Linked DNA regions of Homo sapiens: region 2 is linked to region 1. The links come from fine-mapping of genetic effects on gene expression. A gene starts in region 1. The other region holds a variant in brackets. All regions are shown on one strand. Distances are between the middles of the regions.

What was found.
Region 2: its variant is fine-mapped to the expression of CREB5 in whole blood (TOPMed, PIP above 0.99).

What each region holds. Positions count from the first base shown.
Region 1 is chr7:28,406,801-28,419,000 of GRCh38, forward strand. It overlaps CREB5 (cAMP responsive element binding protein 5), which reads left to right and starts at 5,718. Exons shown (of 11, transcript NM_182898.4): 1 at 5,718-6,117. The coding sequence starts at 6,115. RefSeq lists silencers at 2,110-2,404, 2,373-2,442 and an enhancer at 5,715-5,804.
Region 2 is chr7:28,678,314-28,690,513 of GRCh38, forward strand. The region is part of intron 5 of CREB5 (cAMP responsive element binding protein 5); the gene reads left to right. Among named protein-coding and RNA genes, the nearest start is that of CREB5, 270 kb to the left of the region's middle. RefSeq lists enhancers at 6,840-6,889, 7,106-7,614 and a silencer at 6,998-7,167. The variant G/A (reference allele first, on the strand shown) is at 6,413.

The DNA of each region.
Region 1 (12,200 bases):
CTCTGCCAGCGCATTTGACAGATGAGAGGGCTGCTTGGTCCAGATGACACATGCAGAAGGCAATGTGGGGCTGGGGGAATTATGGGGTAAAGGTTCCCTTTTCATTTATTTAGTTAAGTTTGTAAAAAAAAAAAAATCACCAAATGCCCACCTATCACAGCATTAGCCAAAATACCTTTATTAATAAAAAGAGAGTGAGTGCTTCCATAGTACTTGCCCTGTGCCAAACACAATTCTTTTTTTTCTTTTTTCCTTTTATTTTTTTTGAGACAGAGTTTCGCTCTTGTCACCCAGGTTGGAGTGCAATGGTGTGATCTCAGCTCACTGCAACCTCCGCCTCCCAGATTCAAGCGATTCTCCTGCCTCAGCCTCTCGAGTAGCTGAGATTACAGGCACCCACCACCACACCCAGCTAATTTTTGTATTTTCAGTAGAGACGGGCGTTTCACCATGTTGGTCAGGCTGGTCTCGAACTCCTGACCTCAGGTGATCCACCTGCCTCGGCCTCCCAAAGTGCTGGGATTACAGGTGTGAACCACCGTGCCCGGCCCCAAGCACAATTCTTAACTCAAGTAATAAAATTCTTAACTCGAGTCGCTGTAGTTATCATCACCATCCTCATTCATAGTTGAGGCAACTGAGAACCAGGCGTCAAGTAGCAGAGCTAAAATTTGAATTCAGGCAGGCTGACACTAGAATCTACACTAATAAATACCTCTTCTTTTCTTCAGTTTACATTTAGAAATGATTTGTGTGTGTGTGTGAGATCTGGAATATGTAAAAATCTCAGTCTGTAATATGACAGCTAGAAACCTTTTGCATGAAATTGCAATGATTTTATTTCTACAATAAGTAGAAAACTCAGTGATGAACTCTGAATAAGGCTGTGAGGATCAAACAGTCATCAGTCCCTGTGGTTTCAAGGAACACTAAAGGGCAAGGGGCCACTTAAACACTTAAAAACAGAAACAACATGCTAAGCTCTTCCATTTAGTATGTCAAAACCAGCTCAGAAGTATGTGACAATCCAGGCAATGTATTACAGTTTCTAGCCAGTCCAGTCATGATTCTCTGGCAAACTGCACCGTCATGGTTGTGATGCATTGGGATGAGAGGTACTATATAAATGTCAGATGTTACATAAATGTCAGAAATGATTATTGTTTATTAACGAGGGCTAAACTGTTTCTAAGCAAAGCTCCATCTCCCAGCCAATGTGTTCTTAGCAGAGGTTCCAACCACCAATAACCCACAAGAAGGGAATGCTTACCCCTGGCTCTATGAAGGAGCCCAGTTGGGATCTGGGCTTGAAAACAGGGATTGAGTTGGGCCCAGTGCCACCCCTTGCTCATCAAGTGATCTCAGGCCAGCCCCCAACCTTCTGGTGTCTGCCTTAGCTCACCTGTAGAATGGGAATAATTATAATACCTGTCCTACTTCTGGTACCCGGGTTGGTGTGAGAAACAAGGGAAATCACGTGGTCGCAAGCGCTTTGTAAGGTGTGAGGGGCTGCGAGGTTGGCATTGGTCGTCTAGAATCGGGCTGGATTTAGCCTATGCCTTCTCTTTGAATCCTACTCAAAGGGAGAACTTCTGAAAGGAAATTCAGCAGGGGGATGGTGACAGTGATGGTGACGGCCGGATACTGGAGACGCCAGGCTCCTCTCGCTGCAGACCAGGCGCCCGGATCCTGCAGTCTGGCCCTGGCTCTGCCGCTCCCCAGCCCGTGAGCTTGGGCCAGTTACCGAAGAGGCTCTGGAAGTGACAGCCAAGGGCCCTTTCGGCTCTGACGCCGTGTCTAAATCAGGCTCATCACTTGGCTCTAGCTGTGATTCACCTTTCGCCTTAGGAGCAACTCTCCCTACAGCTTCTCAGACGCATGAAGCAGGGGTCCCGCGAAGGGTGGGGCTGTGTATTTCATGAGAGTGTGCACCATAAGGAAGTTATTCTCCTGGAGGAGGTGAGATGAGGGGGCGGTGAAGAAGGGGTGACAAGTGAGTGCTCTGAAAAGCCAGGATGCAGGGAGCACTGAAATGAGGTCATGACTGTCGCAAGCAAAAAGGAGCTGGACATCCTCCGGTGGGGGAGGGAGGAGCGTCCTGCATTTCTGTTTGCAAAGTCTTTTCCCACATCCTTCAGCATCCCCCTCCCCACCTCTCCCCTACCCCCATCCCTACACCTTTCAAACCCCATCAGGCCCTCCCCGCAGAAGAGCCCACGCCCGCGCCTCCTCCGTGGTCTTGTCTGAAACCATAAGGATTGTTTCCAAGCTGACTCACACCACTAATGTCAGGGAGCCGTGTCACACGGCGCTGGGCTCTGCAAGCTGTTGCTTGCGCAGTCGCCCCCGCCGCTGCCGCTCCCGGGCGGGTGCACCAGGGTCCGCGCGGGCGGGGCGGGGTCGGGGCGGGACCGGGGCGGGGCCTGCCCCCTCGACGCGCCGGCCCCGCCCCTCGCTCCGTCCCTCCCCAGCGGACCGCAATGATTTAGAAGTTCAGGAATCCCACGTGACGTCACCGGGGGGGTGATGTAATGCACTCTAAATAGAATGTATTGTAATCTTTGCTCAGTCCAACGTGGTCCCTTCACCCGGGCTCCGCTCTTGCCTTCTCCACACTTGTTTGGTAAGTTCCTAAAAATACGGCTCGGCCACTTCTGGGGCTTTTGCATTTAGCCACTTTTGTTGCACTTGCCGCAGGAGCCATCTCGGGAGTGTACTTGTTTGCAGGGGTTGGTTCTCGGCAGCAGCCGCGAGGTTACTTGGTCCAGTGGGCAGGTCACAGGGCAAGGAGTAGGGAAGATGCGATGCATTTTTTTCTGGAGGGTGATCTGTGTTTGTAAACATTTTGGCGGACCAGAGGGAAGTCCGGCCCCGAGTGCTGGTAGACTGTGGAATTCGGCTGTGTCCTGAGGCCACCCTAGAGACCCCGCGCCGCGTGAGTGCCGGAGCGCTCGGTGGCCGCCGCGCCGCGCGCCTGGAGGGATGCTAACGTGGAGCCGGCGCCGAGTCCGCCCGGCGTGCGTGCGTGTGTGGGAGCGCGCGAGTCCCCTGACGCGGGGACCAGTTATGAATCGGGGGTGTGTGTTTGCCTCCAGAGACCTGGCAAGGTGCGGAGCCCTCCAGAAGTGCGGTCAAGCGGCAGCGGAGACGGCGAGCCAGGAACCTCCCCCCGCGTCCCCAGCTTCCCAGCGTGGCGGCGGAACCCCCGGAGAAAGTTTGCAAACTTCCAGCGGGCGCGGCGAGGACGCCGGGTCACCTAGGGGGCGGGTGGGCGCGCGCGCAGGGGGCTCGCTCTCCCCGGTGCGGAGCTGCAGCTGCCACCTCTCCCGCCGGGCTGCCGGCTGCAGCGGGTGGGCGCGCGCCCGGGGAGGGGAGGTCGCCCTCGGAGGGCGCTTGGCTTTCGCTCCAGGCGCTCCGGGCTGGAGAGCGGCGAGGCTCCGTCCGCTCCAGTCCACTCCTCCGGCCGCCTCCTGCCTCCGCTGCTTTCTTGCTGGCATCGTTACCTCTTCCCGGCCGCTGCCCCAAATGACAGCTCCGGCTCGAGCTTTGGCGGCGCCCAGGCAATTCCCAAGACCTGGCGGCGGAGTCTCCCCCTGCGGCAGATTCTCGGCAGAATCACTTGAACTTTTCACGAAGTTCTTAGAGGGGCAAGATGCGAAGGAAGGAACCAAGGAGATGTTTTCTCTCAGCAGCTGCATCCCGCTTCTTCTTTGCCATAGATTTATTTTTAAGGGGCGTCTGGTAGATAAAGCCCTAGACCTTGTCCACACTCTCACCCCCATCCCCAACTTTCCCTGGACCGGTGCCGCCCCCACTTGATGCTTGCTCAAGGCCGGGGACTGGAGCGGGCTACTTGTATATTTCGTTGTCAGTCTGCAGAATGTGTTTGATTTTTATTTTTCCCTCCTTCTCTGACATGTGTCAAGGAATAAAGACTGGATACAGGTCCATTACGTCATTCTGCAGGCCAGTAAGTGTTTGATTAACGGCTTGAGCTCCTCAAGGGTTCAGGAGCTTAGAATGCTGACAAAGCAACTCTGCTTTGCATCCCCCTACCCTCCCCACAACACACTCGTGCAATCGCCGGCTCCCTGGGCATCTTTATTGCCCTCTCTTCCCAGCCCCTCCCTCTCCACCACTCCCCCGTCTACACCGTTATCACTCTAGCCCCGCCCCCGCCTTTTTACAGCTTTCCCTGGGGCGAGCACGGTCCCTGGAGTGTGGGTAAAAGCTTCTGGGGTCTGAGGGGACCACTGTACCTGATCAGCGCGCAATCCGCCCTTTTGTATTATTTAAGAAAGGCACCAGTAAGCCTTCTCCTCTAGGGCGAAAATGCTTAGTCCTGATAGAAAAGGCAAATCAGGAAATGTTTGCAAGCGTTATGATAATACTCTGTCCTCGTGGTGGTGACTTAGGAAAGCAATACACCCACTGCAAACAAAGTATTTCACTTTACGTAGTGCCTGCCCTTTAGCAGAAGAGGGATGCTGACAAAATCAGGTTTAGCTGAAAGGATCAAGACTAAACGTTTCATTTCCAAAGTGAGGGAATGTGAGTCGTTGAACCTAAACTTCCATACAATAAATTGCTGCGTGCGTTAGTTTCTAGCTCTTAACCTTAAGTTTCTATGTTGAAAGAGGAAGTCGAATACGTAAGTCATTGAACTGAGTCAGAACCTCCGTATCTGGCAGTTGAAATAAAGACCCTGTGTATGACTTGTTGCAAGGGATCAAAGTAAAAAGAACCCTCGGTGTGGGGGGTGGGGGGGTGGGGGCGTGAGGGAGGTGTGCAGCAGAAATTAAATTTAAAAAAGTATTAACAGAGTTTTGGATAGAGGGAGAGAGGGGATTGGAGTGGTCCCTGATTTGGAGTTGGTGAAAACTAAATAAAGAAAAGTTTATATTGCAAATATGTGGGAATTTCTTGAAGAACACATGTTTTCTTATAATTAGATCTACTTTCTTCAAAGCGAAAGCCATGCTGTAGGGTAGGCATTTGTGAAACTCCTGTCTGGGGTCTAATTGACATCCTTCCCCAAGTCTGTGGCAGGATTTAGTATTTATTCACATCTAGAGATGAAATAGTGTAACCTCCACACAATATATGTGCATCGAAAATGTTGAACTTCTTGTTTGTGATGCATAGACTTAAAGGAAAAAAAATGGCCCAGTCATGGGCACTGGAAAGTGTGATTAATGATCAGTGATTTAGTGATCAGTGATTAGTGGTTTTATTCAAACTGTTACCTCTGACCAGAAGCACACATCAGAGGATTAACAGGCTCTTTAGATAAATGCTCATTAGTGGAAGGGGAAAAGCAAAGATAATAGGCATGCACCCAGGGACAACTTTCGAAGAAAATCATTCCCGTCTTCAGAATAATAAGCTCTATTAACAGAAAGCCCTTTTAATTTAAAACTTGCTTTTATCTTGTAAATCAAAGTTAGATGTAAAAGTTTGTAGTGCCATTATAACCTAAATTTTCCCATATCCACTAGATGTGGATTATCTCAGTAGCGATATTTTTTTTTATTTAAACAAACAATTGGACCTTTAGAGCAGCTGAACCCTGACAAGTTCTTAACTCCCAGGGTTTGAAAGTGTCCCCCCTTCTAGCATGGAGATTGCAGCTTGCTAACTAGATGGCGCACTGTTATTTGGTGTTCTCTGCTGCGTAGCGCAGGAGTATAAACTGAGCATGTAGCTGCTTGCGAGGTGTTCTTCAACATTTACAACAAAGTTGATTCTGTGTAGGGTTGGAGGCTAGACAGTTCCACAAATTTTTAGTCACATTTTCCATGTCAGTTAAATCTAGGGAGTTCAAGACTACTGGAAAAATTAGTCTCATTACTAAAAGAAACTTAGAGAACGAGGGAGGTACCAGAGTCTAGGAGGTACCTCTGGGTTGCAGAAGTAATTGTAAAATACCAGACCTGTTCTTTTTACTAAAAGCTAGTTTCACTATCTTCTGGTCTGAAATACTGAGGCAAATACTCAAGACTTATTTTCTTCCTAATCTTGCTGGTGAAACAGAAGTTACTAGAAAGAAAGGAAGAAAAAACTTGATTTGGTGACTGCAGGAAGCAACACGTTGCTGCTTTTATTCTACAGATAATGGTAAGGATGATGTTTATTATGCATATTAAACAGAGAGAAAACTTTGCACTTAGTTAAATAGAACCAATGTTGTATTTTCATAGATGGAATTCAGAAATGGAGTTTAGATTTTGCACAAAATTTTAATGTTGCTTTTGTCAGTTTCCTGGGACTTATAGCATTTTATGTGGAAGGATGTGTGTGTGTGTGTGTGTGTGTGTGTGTGTGTGAATAAGACTATTATTTCCCAGGTAAAATATGTTCAGAAGCATATGAACTACAGTGGGGAAGCTATGGAGCATGTTAAGTAATGTGTCAAGCATGAATTCCCCTTTCTGTGAGGTTTCATGAATCACTTCAATAAGTATTTAAGTTTTAATAAGAAAGTTCTTGAAAAAGAAACCTAAAAATTAAAAAAAAACAATAAAACAGTTTTCCGCATTCAAACCTAGATGTGTATGCCCCTGAAGGATGATTCTATGGGTTGAATATCAACTATTACTTTAGTTCTAAAACTTAAAAGAAGAAGTATAATAAAACTCACTTGTGTCTCCCCAGAAATGTTTCTCATTTTCCTTTGCTTATAGCATTTTATATGGATCTCTTATTTTTAAATCCTTACTGATTATAGTGGTTTTTATTTTTCAACTTAACTCATAGTAAACATATTTGAAAATATCTCCAAGCCCACTATTTTTAATGTAAATTGCTGGTGCCGATAAATTGCCTGTCAATTAGCGGTCAGTCGTGACCTTATATAGTTGATACCTGAGAAGATAGTTTATTAGAACATTCCAACAAAAAATTGGAAACCATGCCCTTATTTCTAGATCTCTGTTATGTCACAGCTTTTATTTGAATAGGTGGCTAAATGAATGGTAGTTTGTCACAGAGACTTTTCCTGCATAGATTTTCAATTCTAGTAAGTTTAAGATTTTTGTTACAATGATTTGTCAGTTTCCCACACCTGCACATTCAAAACCAATCAATCATGGAGTTTCCATGATGGCAAGTTCCTAGACTCCCAATTTCTTACTATAATCTACTTTTTAGCAATGAGGTATCACAATCCTATAATATTTTCTTGTCATTGGAGTTTACTTCTTACTAAGCTAAAAATTATTTTGTCGGTGTGTAGTGTTCACTAGATCACTAAGATGTGAACTTTGTATTTGTAGTTCATTTTCTTCTGGTTATGTTGTTGGATTAAAATTGGGATTTGAGTGGACTTATTATTTTTGTCATCTTTTCTTTCTTCTCCTTCTCCTTCTCCTTCTTCTTCTTCTAAGCAATGCAGTTAGTCACAAAATTAATGTGATCCTGGCTGGTGTTTCCCATCTATATGCTTCTTTTGCTTCTTACAAATTGGATTTCTACAGCAATTTAAGGTCTTTTTTTTTTTTAGAGGCAGCTTTCTTGGATGAAGATGGAACAGTGATCTCAGTCAATTCATTATCTTGTCCACTTTGACTACCAGCTGTATTATGGGAATCAACCAATGCTTAATTAGTGTTTAAAAATTTAAATCTATGACTATTTCTCTGAATTCTATTTAAGAAAATTATACAATTGAGATAAGGTAATAAACTGGGGGGCAATTGCCTTAAATATCTAAGTGTGAGGAAGAAGCACTTTCAGATATGCTAAACAGACTTAAAGACACAGAAGACCCTTTTTGTGTTGCTATTTGTAAAATAAGTAAGCTATCTATTTTGTGGCAATGCTTTAAATACAAAGTCTGGCACTTTAAAAATGACATCATGTTTAATGTTTTCACTAAAGAATTATTACATTTCGTAATTAGGAAAAAAATGAGCAATTAGTGTTTTTTGAGTATCCATTAGTATTCCATTGTTGAGAATCACAAATCATAGATTTAACATAGGAATTTTTTTTTTTATAAAAAGAGAGAAGCCTTTTAGAAATTTCCAGATAGTGATAGCACTCTTCCAGAAACCCCACTAAAATTTTTGAAGCTCTTATTGAGGACTCTGGGACTGTCACAGTAAAAGATAAAGTTTAGGATAAATTCTTGAACCCATAAAAGATATTATATTGACATTTCAATATTTCTTTTTTCCAAGTTCACTGTATTGCCTTCCCCCTCACCCCCTGAGAAATAGATCAGAATCAGTTTATCACTTTAAAAATATGTATTTCAGCTGCTTTCTTCTATTTCCTTAAGGTTACATTTCTGATCTTAACCCTAAAAAGATTTTAGGATTTCAATCCTTAACAAGGATTGAAAACTACCAGGCTGGCGTTTGACTAGAACTGATTTTAGAGGGAGTTCTTTTAGGCCTAGAGATTCTGATGGTGAGTTACAAAGGCTTATGGCTTTACACGGATGGTAGGGCTAGGGGAGGGCCTCGGATTGATAGACCAATTTTTCATTTTACAGAAGAGACCCCTGGCTCACCCAAGGCCCAGAGCTAGAGAGAGCCAAACCAGGCTGAGAAGCCTGGTCCCTGCCTCCAGGTCGGGTGCTCCTGCCATAAATGCCCTTGTCAGGAATGGGGCATAACCTATGACTTTGTATCCTTCACTCTTTTCAAGCCTTTTGATGACTAATCTTTCAAAGACAAATTTTTATCAGATCTTTGGAATGAACACCTTAATCATAAAAACTGTAGTTTCTATTTCATTCATTCTTATATAATATCTGCAATGTTATTTTTTCTAATAAGGGCCTCCTTAATTAATTTTAACTTAAATTCTCCTTTTTTCATCATTGTTATGAGACATACCCTGTAAAACCACACCATCCAGATTTCATTTGAGAGTAAAAACCAGGCAGGACTAAAAATGGTCTGAAAGACTGTCTCAAGAACAAGGCAGTGACTTTCTCTACTACCTGTCTTTTCTCTATTATCTGTGAGGACGGGATCTGAAATATTATTTAAAGTTAAAATAAATAACCTTTTTTGTCAAATAGAGAAACGGGTGATGTTTTCACTCTAGAAGGTGTACCTTTGCCTAGGATCTGTCTGTAATACATTATCTTTCCAGATGGATATATATGAGTGTGTTTGGAGGTGACGAGAAGTGAATTGAGTCTGGAAGTATGTTCTTTGAGGTTTGACTGGCAAAACTTGACCAATCATAACCAAAAAAATTCATGCATGCAACACAGAGGGCTCTAGAGCACCACACATTTGATTTAAGATGATATTTAGTCTGTGCTGTATTTAAGATGGGGAATAACAATGTCTAAATAGAAATCCTGAATGCACCTACTGCATGTGTTGTTTGGCCTCACCCACAGGTTTCCTCTCCAGCTGTTTGCATGCGATTTTATATCAGAATTCAGGTCTCTTTTTATTCTTTTATTACACTGAGGAGCTCCTGTGTTGCAGGCATGATTTCTCCAATAGAACACATTTCAGCCAGTTTTATGCAGTCCTCTCTCTGTTGGCTTCCTAAGGGGGAAAAATACATGCAACAACAACAACAACAAAATTTTTGTTTTTGTTTGAATTAGCTGACTATTAGAAGAAATACATGTAATCTCTATTTGCCAGATCTGGTAGGACCATTTCACTTTATCAAAACAAGATCTTCTCCTTTAAGTAAGTTGGCTTCTGACTGGCCAGGTATTAATTCATGCATCAGACAGTAGAAGGCATTGGGATAAAGTCCGTTTCCACCAGGGTATCTAGCTATGGTGTGGTGCACCATCATGAAGGGTCTGATTTGCCTCACTGCAATGACAACATTGTGCAGAAAAACACTGACTCCTAGGAGGAGAAACAATATTATAGGCTCAAGCTTCTAAAATCATATCAGGGAATGATCCTGTGTCGAAGGTGACTGTCAGAACGCTGGGGGCCTCCAGGGTCATTTTCTAAACTACAGCATGACAAAATGTTCTCTTTGTCTATTCTCTGCATTTTCCTTCAGGTAGTGTTTCCCTAGATTCATTCTTTAACATCCATTTCAACTACTCTGCCTTGATGAATAATCCTGCAGTAACAAGTCACAAATGTGTACACAGCAGAGCAGAGATATTTTTCCATAAGGAAAATAGATTTTTATATCAAATCTTAGAAGAAACAATTAGCAAAACAAAAGGGGGGAAGAAGAGTTGAAATTAGATTGATGGCATAACAAGCTCTGTCCATTCGTGGCTCTGCAACAATGAGCAGCCTGAGACTGGAGGAGGGACGCAATTCCCAGAGAGCTGCCTTGAGCTTATTGTGCTTCTCTGCCTCAGTTTCTTCATTTGTGATGAGAATGTCGGGCTCACCCAGCACTGTCCGGTAGTGAGAGCTGCAAATGTGAGCTGCACATTTCATTTTAAACGTTTTAGTAGCCACATTAAAAAGGTTAAAAAGAAACAGGTGAAGTCATTTTAATAACACTTTGATTTAACCTGATATATCCAAAATATTATCATTTAAACATATAATCCATATAAAAATGTTAATGTACTACTTTACATTCTCTCTTTCTCTCTCTTTTTTTTTTTTTGGTACTAAATCTTTGAAATCCAGTGTGTATTTCACAACTACAACATATCTCAATTTGGACTAGCCACATTTCAAGTGCTCAATATCCACGTGTGGTCGGTGACTATGGTATCAGACAACACAGGGTAAATCAGTGGTTTATGATCCTGGCAGCCCAGTAGTACCACCTGTGGAACTTATTAAAAAACACTGATACCCTTCCACTCTGACATTCTGATTTAATTGGTTTGGGGTGAAGGCCTGAGCCTCTGTATATTTTAAAAGCTCCACAAGTGTTTCCAATGTGTAGCAGAGGTTGAGAACCACGGTTCTAACTGATCTCTAAGGAATCTTCTACTCTAATATTCTATGATTCTATTTCAGGAAAGGGATTGCAGTAAAGCGTTCATTCAGAGTTCAAGGGCAGCAAGCAGTTGTTACAAGCATGCTGCACCCTGCAACACATATTTAAGAAAATATAACTGATAAAGATTAAAATTTACAGAATGAATAACTTAGACAATAATTCTTTGCACCACAAATGGGCTCTGTTTTGTGTAACTTTCAAACGTGGGTGTTTTAAATGGTCTGCTTCACTAGAAATCTTAATTTAGGATTTGATTTACATGTAACCTCGTAGAAACCCTCTGTTTCGGAAAAGGTCAGGATTCTCACATTTCAGTTACAGTATTTTGCCAGCTTACTCTTTTGCCCCAGATACTTGCCTTTAGTTGTTTGGGGAGGGAAATTTTTACTCCAGTTGAGACATCTGGATCCCCCAGAATTTTCTTCCTTCCAAGCTTTTAACAAACTTGTGTTATTGCCTAGACCAGATTTTCTCATGTCAAGATGTTAGTTATAACCTCCTAGACTTAAGGTATTCATTTTTATTTGTCACCTTTTAAAATATTAGAAGAATCAATGTTTTTCAATGCACATCAGAATGCTTTATTTTAATATACCTGTTTTTTATAATACACCAGTCTGTGCATTCACTAAAGGATGCAAAAAGTATAAAATAAAAAATAATTTCCAAACTCCTCACGCACCTTCTTGTGAAGTCTACAGACAGAATTGTTTGTGGAGGGGAGGAGAGACCTTGGTGTCAGCCTCTTGTGACTTCATGCTGCAGAGAGCCTCTGCATCCCCAAATTCATGAGTCATTTCACTCTGACCCTCTCTCTCCTTATCCCCTGCAGAGCCATCTATGTCCAAATACATGTCTATTCAACCATATCGCCTTTAAAGCATGACTATAAACTAGTTTTAAATATAAAATTACATGTTTTTCTACATTTTGTGGTGATATTTGTGTTTTCTGTAATGTCATTCATTGGAAGAATGTTAGCTTTCATTTATTAACACATATCTCTAATCCCCATTTTATAGATGGGAAAACTAAGAGATTGCCAAGGCTAGGCATCCTGCTCATTGATTAGATGGGTGGTCGGTATGAGAAAAGAGCTCACATTTATTAGTGCCATGTATTCCAGATATTCCAGATAGAAGCACTGCTTTGGGTTGCTTCCAGGTAGGGATTTTCCAATTGCTTGTACTATTGCGCTTGTCTTTGTATTTATAAATAACATTCTTTCGGGTGCTTTCCCATGCATTATTTGCAGTTAAATGGTTTCCTTGCTAATACCTCTTACTTTC
Region 2 (12,200 bases), 270 kb after region 1:
GGAGGTGGAGGTTGCAGTGAGCCAAGACGGCACCACTACACTCCAGCCTGGGCGACAGAGTGAGACTCTGCTCAAAAAAAATAAAAATAAAAATAAAAATAAAAGGAAAATACAAGCCTGCATTATTTATAAATCATATAGTACTCCATGTCTAGAAAAATCAAAACTTATACCAAAGCATTTAAAAGAGTCACTATGATCATTTTATTAAAGTTTAGAGATGAATTTTACCATAAAGCAGGATTAACTGCACCTTTCTCTCCAGGATTCTGGTGTAAATAGAGAAACCACAGTCATGTATGGGCCTGAGAGGGACAGTAGAATGTGGAAGTGGGTTTGGAAACCAAAATATTATGTCAGCAGTTTTCTCTTTCATTTATTCACCCTTATCAAAACCAACTTTTTAACTCAGGGGCCCAGTTAATAAAAACATAGATAATTTCATTTGGAAGACCCAAGAGCTTCATGTTTGGGGTTTAAAAAAAATTCTTCTCATCCCCTCCGGGCAAAAGTGTTGGAGGGCGAATTCTCCTTGCAGAAACCCTCTTAATAAATCAGTGCTGGTGAACTTCTCTGCTCAGTGTAAGAGAAGGTCAGTTATTAGATAGACACAGAGCTCTACAGCTGGAATCCTTGTGGAAAGAAATGAAACCACAAATACAATTCCTTAGTTTAAGCTTGCCTTTTTATTTCTAATACCTTCAAAACCTCTTCAAACTCATTTTTACTTTTGTAGTTCTTTTTTTTTTTTTTTTTCATTTAAGCATGTTTTAACAATGAAAACAGCCAGCGGAGTATATTTTCAGGGTTATCCTGCAGATACGTAAGTAATCCTTTTCTGAGGGCCTTTATGTGGAATTGCAAAGTGCTGAGGGGAGACAGAGGGAGAATATTCAGAAAGCAGATACTGCAGTGTTTTGAACTTATCATGTGCAAAGGGACAACATTTTTCCACTGATTATGAAAGTCCCCATGAACTGCTTTTCCAGATAAAAATTCTCAGCAAATGATGGTCAGCTTCTGGCAGCCCCAAGTTTTCCTCTCTGTGAAATGGGGAGACCCACCAGGGCAGCCTTGGAAACCAGTGGCTTAGGGGTTCCAGGAAAGAGGCAGGCATTTACTTTGCAAGTTTGGCTCAGAGTGTGGGCCCTGATGAGATTTCAGGGTGTAAAAGGGAGGGGACGAAGACCAGGTGAGCAGTGTAAGGCCTTCTTAGGACCCGAGGGAAGTGGCCTTCTACATTTCTTACTTTTTGATGTTATGCCACAAAAATGCTCTGTTCTTCTCTGCCTCTACTCCAACCCTCATCCCTTGGAAAATCTTCCTGGTCAGAATCATGATGTTCCTAAGATGGTTGTCTTCCCACATTGCCTCTCCTGATTCCAGGGCCGGTAACAGTGCTTGCTTCTGGACACATGGATTAACCCAGGTCATGAGGAACACCTGGATTATAAAAGGTGTTAGTGTATCAGTACAAAACAGCGAATGGTCGCATTCCCAACTTTGGTATCAGACAACTTTTAGTTCAGCTCTCAGCTCACAGTGGCTAATTGAGAAGAAGGAAAGGCTGATGAAAGCTGACACTAAGGAAGAGTCTAGTCTGTTGCAGGCATCATTCTCCATCTCCCCAAAGAGCCAGGCAGGCCCAGAGCTTCACCTGATATTTTTCTACTAACCCTACCCATGCTCATGAGTACACAGAGTAGAAAATTATCTCCAAACGAGGCTGGGACTAAGGGGCACAAATGAGCCCCCTATGGCTCAACATTTAAGGGGGCAATTATTCTCAGGGTTGGACAATTGCAGACCTGCACCTGAGAGTGAGTACCTCCTTAAATTTTGCACCCTAGGCACCTCACTTGCTTCAACCTGGACTGGTCCAGTCACCACCCTTGGTCAAAGGGGAAAGTAGGAATTTGGTTGATAATCTCCTTTAACCAAGGTTCCCCACAGAGCCTCCAGGAAAGGCCTCTTTCTTGGACATCATCAGTTGGGTTGTCCACCTCTCCCAAGCATAACTGCTCTGAGCCAGTCTTGATCAGCTACTATGCCTTGTCTTGGCTCCACTCAACACCAGAACATGAATCAGTGTAGTTAGTCTGACAACATCATTAGGCTCCAATCCCGTATAAACTTTTACCCACAAAAGTTTGGACCTCCTTGGCCGAGCACTATGGCTCACACCTGTAATCCCAGCACTTTGGAAGGCCAAGCTGGGAAGATCACTTGGGTCCAAGAGTTCAAGACCAGCCCAGGCAACATAGGGAGACTTTGTCTCTACAAAATGTAAACAAAATTAGCCAAGCATGGTGGTGCACACCTGTAGTTCCAGCTACTCAGAAGGCCGAGGTGGGGGAATCATTTGAGCCCAGGAGGTCAAGGCTACAGTGAACTGAAATCATGCCACTGCACTCCAGCCTAGGCAACAGAACAAGACACTGTATCAACCTATCTCAAAAAAAAAAAAAAAAAATTGGACCTCCTGTTCCCCCACCATTATTTGAGTTCTTCCTGTAGTGCCCACTCTAGTCATAGAGATTGGTTAGAACTGACATCACCTTTCTTTGGACATGATAAAGTCCTGGTGGCAGTGTCTCCTTTTTTAGGGCACCTCAACAACTGTGCAAGAAGTCCCAACAGGAGAATATTTAGCTGCTCTCACCTCAAGTTCCAATTTCCCTGGGTGCCTCATGTAGGAAGCTGGTGACAATAGTCTAGGATCAGCTGCTCTGACATCCACCACAGAGTGCTCATTCTGCCATCCCTGCTGTGGGGGTCCAAAAAAAGGGAGCAAGAGGAATCTGAGGCCCTCCAGGGAGAAAAGGTATAGTGTAGGGATGGAGAAGGCTGACTAGTAGATTTCCTAGGATTTTCTTATTATAGGTTTTCTAGATGCTTCAGATCTTTAGGAAGCTGCATAAAAAGTGTGAGCAATAATACAAACAGGAAAAAGAACTTTCAGGAGGCAACATATTCAGGGAAGACCGAGCAGCCTGTGTTGCCGCTAGTTCAGGCTCAGTTACATTTCTTTTTCTTTAATTAATTTATTACTATTATTATCATTATCATTATTAGAGACAGAATCTTGCTCTGTCTCCCAGCCTGGAGTGCAGTGGTGCGATCATGCCTCACTGTAGTCTTGAACTCCTGGGCTCAAGTGATCCTCCACCTCAGCCCCAGTAGCAGGACTATAGATGTATGCCACCACGCCCAGTCCCAGTCACATTTCTTAGGGACCTACTATGTATGGGCCAGGTGCTAGGTGCTAGGGAAATGAAGATGTATAGCACAGTCTCTGCCCTGGAGAAGCAAATGGCTGCTGAAGAAGACAAGCATGAAGAGATCCTCTCCATAGCTGGCTTATTGCTGGGATACAATCTGCTTCAGGACGCCAAAGGAGCACAGAGTAATGGCCACCCTTATCCCAGTCTGGTAGCCCAGCAAGGAGACCATGGAAAAGATAATGCCTGAGCTGAGGATTGTATTCATTCATTCACTCATTCATTTATTCAACAAATATTCCAGGAGTGTCAACGGTCTTTCAGACATTGGTTTAGGTTTAAGTGGTACAATGACTTGCACATTTTAAGAAGTTAGAGAAAAAACACTATAGGAAGCAGAATTGATGACAATATTTTAGGGCTAATCAAATGGCTCTTGTGACCTCTTAATATCCACCCCCAAAGGTTTCCTGATGCCTCCACCATTATAAATTCATTCCTTTGTTTGAGACACATTCAGCATTGCCACATCCGTGAATTACAAATAGGTTTTGACACAGGAAAGGCCAGTGAATTGCCTAAGGGTACTTAGTGCCAGGGTTGGGGTATAGGAGGTGCAGTAGTTACACGACAGGAGTCACCAAGGGCAGATCACTCCCTTGTCTTCTCTCTGGGAGCACCTGGAGCTGACTTCAGCAGGGCTGACAATTTAAGCCAGTGAATCCTGCCTGCACATGGTTCAGGATGCATGCTGCACCAGGTCACCTAGGCGGCCCCTCATCCTCTGTCCACTGTGAAAACACGGGACACCCAGGTCGAAGGGAATGCTGAATGACACCATGTGGGTGTGCAGTGGTCTGTGACCAGAGGGTTCACTGGAAGCAATTTGCAAAGGAGGACTTAGAAAACCACCTGGATGGTTATTGTAAATTAAAAAAGGAAGAGATGCCACTTTTTTCTGAATAATTTTTAATACTAGGTTTATGGCTGGGTACATGTGATAGTCATTACAGCTTATTTAACTCTGAAATTATCTGGCCCCTCAAACTCCACCGGGACTGTAGAAATCTTGGGTTAAATTTTAAAAACAACATTTGAAAGAAGATGATATACTTTTCCTTGAGGAGAATAAATTCAAACCTAAAAGTGGGGGGGGGGGGAAACCCCAGCTCTCTCTAGGAAGGATCTCCATTGTTTCTCATATTTGCTATGTTTCTCATAACGTGTTTGAGCTCAGAAATTCACCCAGGCACACAAAAGGTCTACTCTAGTTGGCTGTTGAGCCCCTCCATCCCTGCAATCCAAGTTGTGCCTTTTCTATTGGGTTATTTGGAAAGAGTCCAAAAGCATTCTGAACTCTGAGCTCAAATCTCAAAGGTTTCCACTTCTTCGGAGCCGAACATTTCATCAGGGGCTGGGAGTGTGTGAGTGAGTTACACCGAACAGCTGCGCGGTACCCACCACCCTCTCCCCAAGGATGACACGCTCTGCAAAGGAGGGTGTTGTAAGCATTCCTGAGCAAGCCAGCTAATCTGGAGACCTAGCCTGTTGGCCGGGGGCTACTTCTAAGAAGCCTCCCTCTGGAATTACAGCATCTTATGACTTCTATCTACGAAGCCCCCCTTCTTCAGAGGAGCAGCTAGGACATGGGGTAGGGGAGAAGGCCAAATGGGTGAAAAAGGAATCTCTTGAGTCAGAGGGGCATTTCTTTTTGGGAACAGGATCTTGTCTCTCTTTAGCTGCTCACAGGAAGGAAAATGGGAAAGTAGGGCTTCTTTTCAAGTGGGGAGGCACCCAGCAGCCAGTGGAATGCCTGATTTGGAAGGGGCAGGAGGGAATAGTTATGTCCCGAACAACAAGTGCAAATGTAAATATGCAGACCTTTGAACTCTGAAATTGATTTCAATTCAGGCCAGCACTCCAAAGTTGTTTTATTGGGATGTCGAAGTGTTCTGGCACGTTGGTGGCTTAACGGCGTCATCATCAGACCCAGACATTTCTGGGTCCTTGGCATTTGTCTGGGTTTTAGAAACACTGTACCCATTGGCGATGTCACTCCCTGATCAGAGGCACACTGGCCACCTTCAAACCTCTTGTTCTCTTACTCCTCCTGGCAGAAGCAATGATGCTGGCGGGTCTCATCTGAGATCCGTGCCCGGCATTGGCTGAAGCTATCATCTCCTTTGTTACTTCCCAAGCAAGGCACAGGAAAGCCATCTTTACATCACCTCTATTTAAAGCACAGGGTCCCTTTTGCCTATGTCACTGAAAAACAGCAGAAGCCTGGTATCTAGTGGATTCACCCCGGCCCTCTAATGTGGTATAAGGAAAATCCTACAGAGAACATTTTCCCATTGAGCTTACAAAAAGATGTAAATTTGGAAAACTCTACCACATATCCATTTTGCACCAAAAATAGTAACATAAATAAAACATTTAAATAAGAAAACTAAAGTGGGGAGGGGAGATTTGGGGGGTAGGGAAGGGAAAGTGAAAGTCCATAGCTTGATATTAACCAAGATGGTCAATGGCTCATTTAAAAAGGAAAAAGTAGCTTATGCAAAATCTTGCCAACCTGCCTTGAAGTGTAAAGGCTTGTAGAAGTTATTGAAAATTTTGTTTTATTTATTCCCCTTAGCAGAAGAAAAATCAATGTCTGCTTGGCAAGTCAGACGTAAATGAGTTATACAGGCCACTGACATGGTGGACCAAACTTTATAACAACCACATTTGCCGCTGTCAGGCCACAGGCTTCAGTGGCGCCAGCTGTAATTATGGCTGATCACCTCTAATTCAGAGCTGCCTGCCTTGATAAAGGTGTCACTCGGAGCTACTGTGGCATCAGCATCAATTGAGGATGTCAAGCCAAAGGGCAGCTTGCTGGAGAAAGCACTTCCCCACCCCAACCCCCAGGGTCCTGGAGACCCTTGGGCAAATATTGCTTTTTAACTCTTCACCCTGAGTACGGCAACACTCCCTGAAGCTGTGATTTAAATTCCAGGGGATTCAGATGAATATCCCTGACCTCCATCAGTGGACGTCTTTAATAAGCTGAGAGATTTCTCCAAAAACACAGTTTAGAAGTCAAGATCCTCTGTGCTTTGCAACGTGCAGAGACAATGTTTGTCTTATCTACCTGATTCATTGGCCACAAAAGGCATTAGGGGCAATAGACTGTAGCACAAGCCATG[G/A]TCATTTTTGGAAAAGGAAAAAAAAATTGCAGCTTCATGCCTTTCTTCTGCTTTTGTGGTATTTAAAAAAAATTCTAGCGAACTTCCCATTTTCATGTTACTTTTTTCTTTTTGAAGGAAACATGAAGTGTGGGGAGAAATAGCAAAACGGAGAGATGATGGGGTTAAAAAGCCCTGCTAATAGAGTAGTGTCTGGACTGTTGTCATTGTCGTGGTGGAGCCCTGAGTGGGGAGGTGTGAAGTGAGGGGTAGAATTCAGCCATTAAAAAGGCTTCACTGTCATTTGTGAAGGATCATGCTTGACTGCCCCCACCTCCCCAGGCTGTTTTTCCTCACTCTGTAATTAAAAAAGAGACACACATACTGTCTGTTCTCCTCTTTAAAGTCACAGACGGCCCCACCCACACCAGCACCCCCTCCAGCGAGTTGAGTTGTGGGGGCACAGCCTGTCTTTCATTTTAAGGGAGAACTTGTCTTCCTTCCCTCTCCTTTGGAAGGTTCACCTGAGGGTGGAGTGCTAATCTCAGAAAGGCAAGTTTTGTGTTTTGTGGCTGGGGTCTTTTTCCTTTAGCACCTGACAGGGTGACCCATAGGGGCCAAGGGAGAAGTGACTGTGATTTCACAGCCCTTGGTGGCTCCAGACACGGGCACGTGTTTGGACCAGAAGTGGTTTTGCCCTCGCTGACAGGGAGGTCAGATGCGAGAAGTCTCCGGAGGGCTGGTGGTTGGCATTCAGCAACAGAAAATCCCATCCAGCTCCAGGAAAAAAGGGCCCTGGGCGATGGAAACCCTGTCACCTGGTTCTGAACCAAAGCCCAAGCTGCTAACTGAGGTTAGTTTTTCACACTCAGACCTTCCAACCTGCCATCTTTCACTCCCTGCTTCCCCATCTCTACACGTGTCTTGATGTTATTTCCCTTTCTCCAAACACAGGGCACTCTTTTTTTTTTTTTTTTTTAACCAGTATTTTTTTTTTGTTTCCAGCAGAACCAGCTGACCCCTGCCTGCAGAACTCCGGGTCCCTCTTGGAGCTCTCTGATGGCAGCTGTAGGGCCATCCCCAGCGGCACTGTTTCCCCCTTTGTTTACCCGTTTCTAAGGGCAAGTGCACCACGAAGGCTCTCCGAGCCTGGAACTCAGCCTGGGGCTGTTTTGGTTACATTGAAGTTTTTGCTTCAGTTCTGCCAGATTTAAGTGGTGACTTCACTAGCACTGAGCTAAAAAGGAGAAGGGGGAGGAGGGCGAGACCAGGAGAAAGAGAGCAAGTGAGCGAGAGCCCAGCCGGAGGGAGAGCCAGAGCTAGGCGCAAAAGAAGGGCCAGCACATTACATCATCGCTTGGCCTGGAATCAAATGGGAAGGATATGACTCACTCAAGCTAGTTAAGCTTTGGCTCAAATTCTACACACACTCATTCCAGAGCTCTCATGTTCTGCACCTCAGGAGGGAATTCAGCCTCAGTGATGTCCATGAGGTTTGTTTTTAATTTTATTTTCTTTTCTCCTGATTTTATAGATTTTTTTTGCCCCTACTGCCTTCTGTTTTTGAGCCTTCGTCCTCCTCCTCCTCCTCTTCATTTTCTCCCCCTTCTCCCTTTCTGCCCGTCTTTGTTTCTCCTCTTCTTCCTTCTCCTCTTTCCCCAGCCCCTCCGCTCCTCTTCTTGCCCGAAGAGGCATTTCTTTTCACTTCGATCAGAGTTTTTGTTCTAGCACAGAGACCTGAATGAGTTGAACAGAGGCCGGGTTGGAGGAAAAAAGAAAAAAAAAAAAAAGCAGAGCAAACCAAAGCAACCAGAGCAAAAGGGCCACAAATAAAGAGCGAAGCGAGAAAGAGCAAACTCGGGCGAAGTTTCTTTGCTGCGGTGTCGCTCCTAATCGGAGGAGACAGGGAGAGAGTTAAAATGCAGGAACCAATCGCTTGAATGGTGATGTAATGCAAGAACCGAAGGGTAGTTAAGTAATGTGAGAGCGAGGGGGTCAGGGTTGCAAAGCATTTACCTGCTCTCAAGGGGTTTTCAGTTTATTATCAATTGCAGTGACTGTAACCGGCTTCAGACTGCAATCTCTAATTATTCACAGACGCTCCTTTTTTATCTTTTATTATTAAAAGTAAAACTATATTATGGTATTTTAAAATAACACGATATTATCACAGCTGTGTATTATTTTCTGCCAGGATTCTCTCTCTCTGTTTTTTAAATGGCTTAAAACTGTTGTCTTTTCATAAAAGGTGGAAGTGATGGTGTGGTGGTTGGTTGGGGGGTTGGGGGGGCGATTTTTGAGTGTAACTGGTGAATTGTAAATGACTGGAAAACTGTGTGTTGTATGAAAAGTGAATGATTGTGCTGTTCCATTTATTATTAAGAATATACTGCAGCTTTTAAAAGTAATAGATGATGATCCTCAAAAGTAGTTATAGCCTTTCCCCTATTATTTCAGTGAAGGTTAACAGCAATTGTGCATTTGCTTGAGCATGTTGACATTCTGTTGTTCCACGTGCTAATTAATCCGGTGCTATCTTTAAGACTTTTATGTTCTTGAATTAATTTTTTAGATGATATGCTTCAGTAGTGAGGGGGCGATGATGAAGACTTCTTGATTGAGTTGTCTTAGAAACAGTTAATATTTCAGAGTAAGAAATTAACAGGAAATACAGGGAGAGGGGGCAAAGGATTGTGTTCTTAATGTTTTAAGGATCTCGTGTACTCAGAGAGAGAGACTTTGATGTTTTGAAAATTATTACCACATTTCTGTTTCATAGAATAGATTTCGTATTGTGATATGCTGCCTGAGTTGGGTGCTTTCTGACACCATCCGGCATTACTAGATAGTAATAAACTGAAACCCACTAAAACAAGAGGGCAAACACTTTCTCATTCTGGGAACTTCAAAACTTCTCTTGGGCTTATTTAGACGTGATCATCCTACAGCTGGATGCATATTGAGGCATGCGGCACATACCAGAAAGGTGTCTATTTATTTAACGCATGTTTTGGATATCATTCATTATGACTTTATGGATCTTCTCTCTTTCCTCCTTTTTTGGGCAGAGGTGGAAGTGGGGAGCAGAGGGGAGAAGTAATTTTTGGAGGAAGTAGCATGATGTGTGAGGAGGCCTGAGTGTTGATTCTGATGCTTGACCTTGAGCAAATCACTTAAACCATCTGGGCACTACTCTAAAGAGCAGGAAAGGGCAAGGTGGGCTAGAAGCTCCTCCCCGCATGGGGAACCAATCTTAGATGATCTCTGGAGTCTCTTTCCACTCGAAAGTTCTATGTTTATATCCATGTTCTATACAAAAGTTTGCTACAGAGTATTTAGCATAGCTTTTCAGAGAAAAGTACATTTGAAATTCAGGATGAATTAGTACTTGAAATGAATGGGGGAGGATGGACAGGAGTATATCTTTCCCCACTTTGAAGTTTGATCTTTATTTGTTTACTTCTTGCTTTTTGGCAAAAAAACAAACATGGTAAACTTTTTAGTTTTCAAATGCTACCTTTGAGGAGACCTCAATGAGATAAATTACCTAGGTGAGACTGCCAAAAAGAGTGGCAGAGTAGACAAGGGGGAGAATTCACCTGCCCAGAAACTTTTCTAAAAGATCCCGCACATCCTTCAGATTCATGAAATGGTGCCAAAAATGCAGCAGACACAGACCCTTGTGCTTCAGTTGCTCACATGGAGCAGAACAGTATTTTCAATGAATTTATTCCCCCAAAGATTGCATGACTACTTGATAAGTTTCTGTATTTTTAACATAAACTCAAGTTTTTAAAGGAGATTTAAGGCTACATTTGAAAACCTTCAAAGATCATGAAAAGCAAAACCGTATGTGCTTGTTAGATAATTTTCCAGACAATACTCCTATTCTTCAGGCAAATTCCAGGGTAGTAGCCTTATTATAAAGTATATATTTATGTATCCGGGGTAGTAGCCTTATTGTAAAGTATGTAGTTATGTACTTATGGCCCAGCTCAATTGCGCACAGGGAAGGACCTTAACTATGCCTATCTGTGGGAAGAAATTACCCAGAGCTAAAATGAAACCAGTGGTGAAGATTATTAGTCATTGTGCATAGTTTGATGAGTGCCAAGTGTATGCTTGGGACTCTTCAGGAATAAAGAGGGCATGATTTCTTTTTTTAGAGCATTACAATTTATGTCGACTTGGCTCCGAATTGTTCACTCATATTCAGTAATGCTCTGCTTGTGACTGACAGAGACAAGGCCAGGAGCACTAGCCTGGCTGTGGCCTCTCCATGCCGGCTGTGATACCAGGTTGCACTTACATGATCTCAGCTCATTACACTTACCCACGGTAACCCAGAGGGCTAAAAATTATTAATTCCACTGTTTGACGACTATTTTGTTCTGTTTCATGGTTTTTGTTTTGATTTTTGGTTTTTAATTAAAAATTTTTATTCAGATAAGTATACATTTACATGCATTCATAAGAAATAATATGGAGAGGGCCGAGCGCAGTGGCTCACGCCTGTAATCCCAGCACTTTGGGAGGCCGAGGTGGGTGGGTCAGGAGATCGAGACCATCCTGGCTAAAATGGTGAAACCCCGTCTCTACTAAAAATACAAAAAATTAGCCAGGAGTGATGGCGGACACCTGTAGCCCCAGCTACTCAGGAGGCTGAGGCAGGAGAATGGTGTGAACCTGGGAGGCGGAGCTTGCAGTAAGCCGAGATCGAGCCACTGTACTCCAGCCTGGGCGACAAAGCGAGACTCTGTCTTAATAATAATAATAATAATATGGAGAGATTCCCATGTATTCTTTGCCCAGTTACCCTCAATGGTAACATCTTGCAAAACTGTTGTAGTACATTACTACAATCAAAATATGGACACTGTTACAATCCATTGATCCTGTTCTGCGTTCCTGTATGAACAAGCACATACAGTTTTGCCTTTCATGATTTCTGAAGGTTTTCAAATGCAGCCTTAAATCTCCTTTAAAAACTCAAGTTTATGTTAAAATTATAGAAACTTATCAAGTAGTCATGCAATCTTTGGGGGAATAAATTTATTAAAAATACTGTTCTGCTCCTTGCGAGCAACTGAAGCACAAAAGCCTGTGTCTGCTGCATTTTTGACACCATTTCATGAATCTGAAGGATGTGCAGGATCTCTTAGAAAAGTTTATGGGCTGTGAATTCTCCCATTTTACTTGTATTTGGTGTGTGTGTGTGTGTGTGTGTGTGTGTGTGTGTGTGTTGTTTTTGTCAATGTAAAAACTGAGAGTCAGGCTTACCCAAGTACATATAAGTTCTGGCAATTGGAGTCCAGTTCACTCTAGGTCTAGCTCACCATCACCAACAAACTTTCCATCACCATCCTGACTTGGTAAGGGAAGGGGTCTAATGCCCTTGCCTGTCAGTGGAAGTCATCAAATACCCAGTTGGGGAGTCTTGGTGACAGTGACTGTGTTTTACCTTCCCTTGGACATGGCCTGTCCATGGGCTTTGCCTTCCACAGGGGTCCCTGGGGCTGTGCTCCACAGGTGAGCAGGTGGAGGAGGAGAGATGGCTTTGCTAAGCAACAGAAGAGGCATCAATCTCTTCCCTCTGCCCACCAGACACAGAGCAGAACAGTGCCAGCTGTCCATGCCTAAGCATCACCATAGTCGATGCTGAACTCACATTCTTCCTCCTCGCCCTCACATGTTTCCCTTGGTGAGCCCTTTTACAGCAGGAAGGATGGGGATAATATCAAGCAGGCATTGCCAGTCAGAGAAGCAGGGTGGGGTCTCCTGAAAAGAGCATGGCCTTTGGGGTTATAAA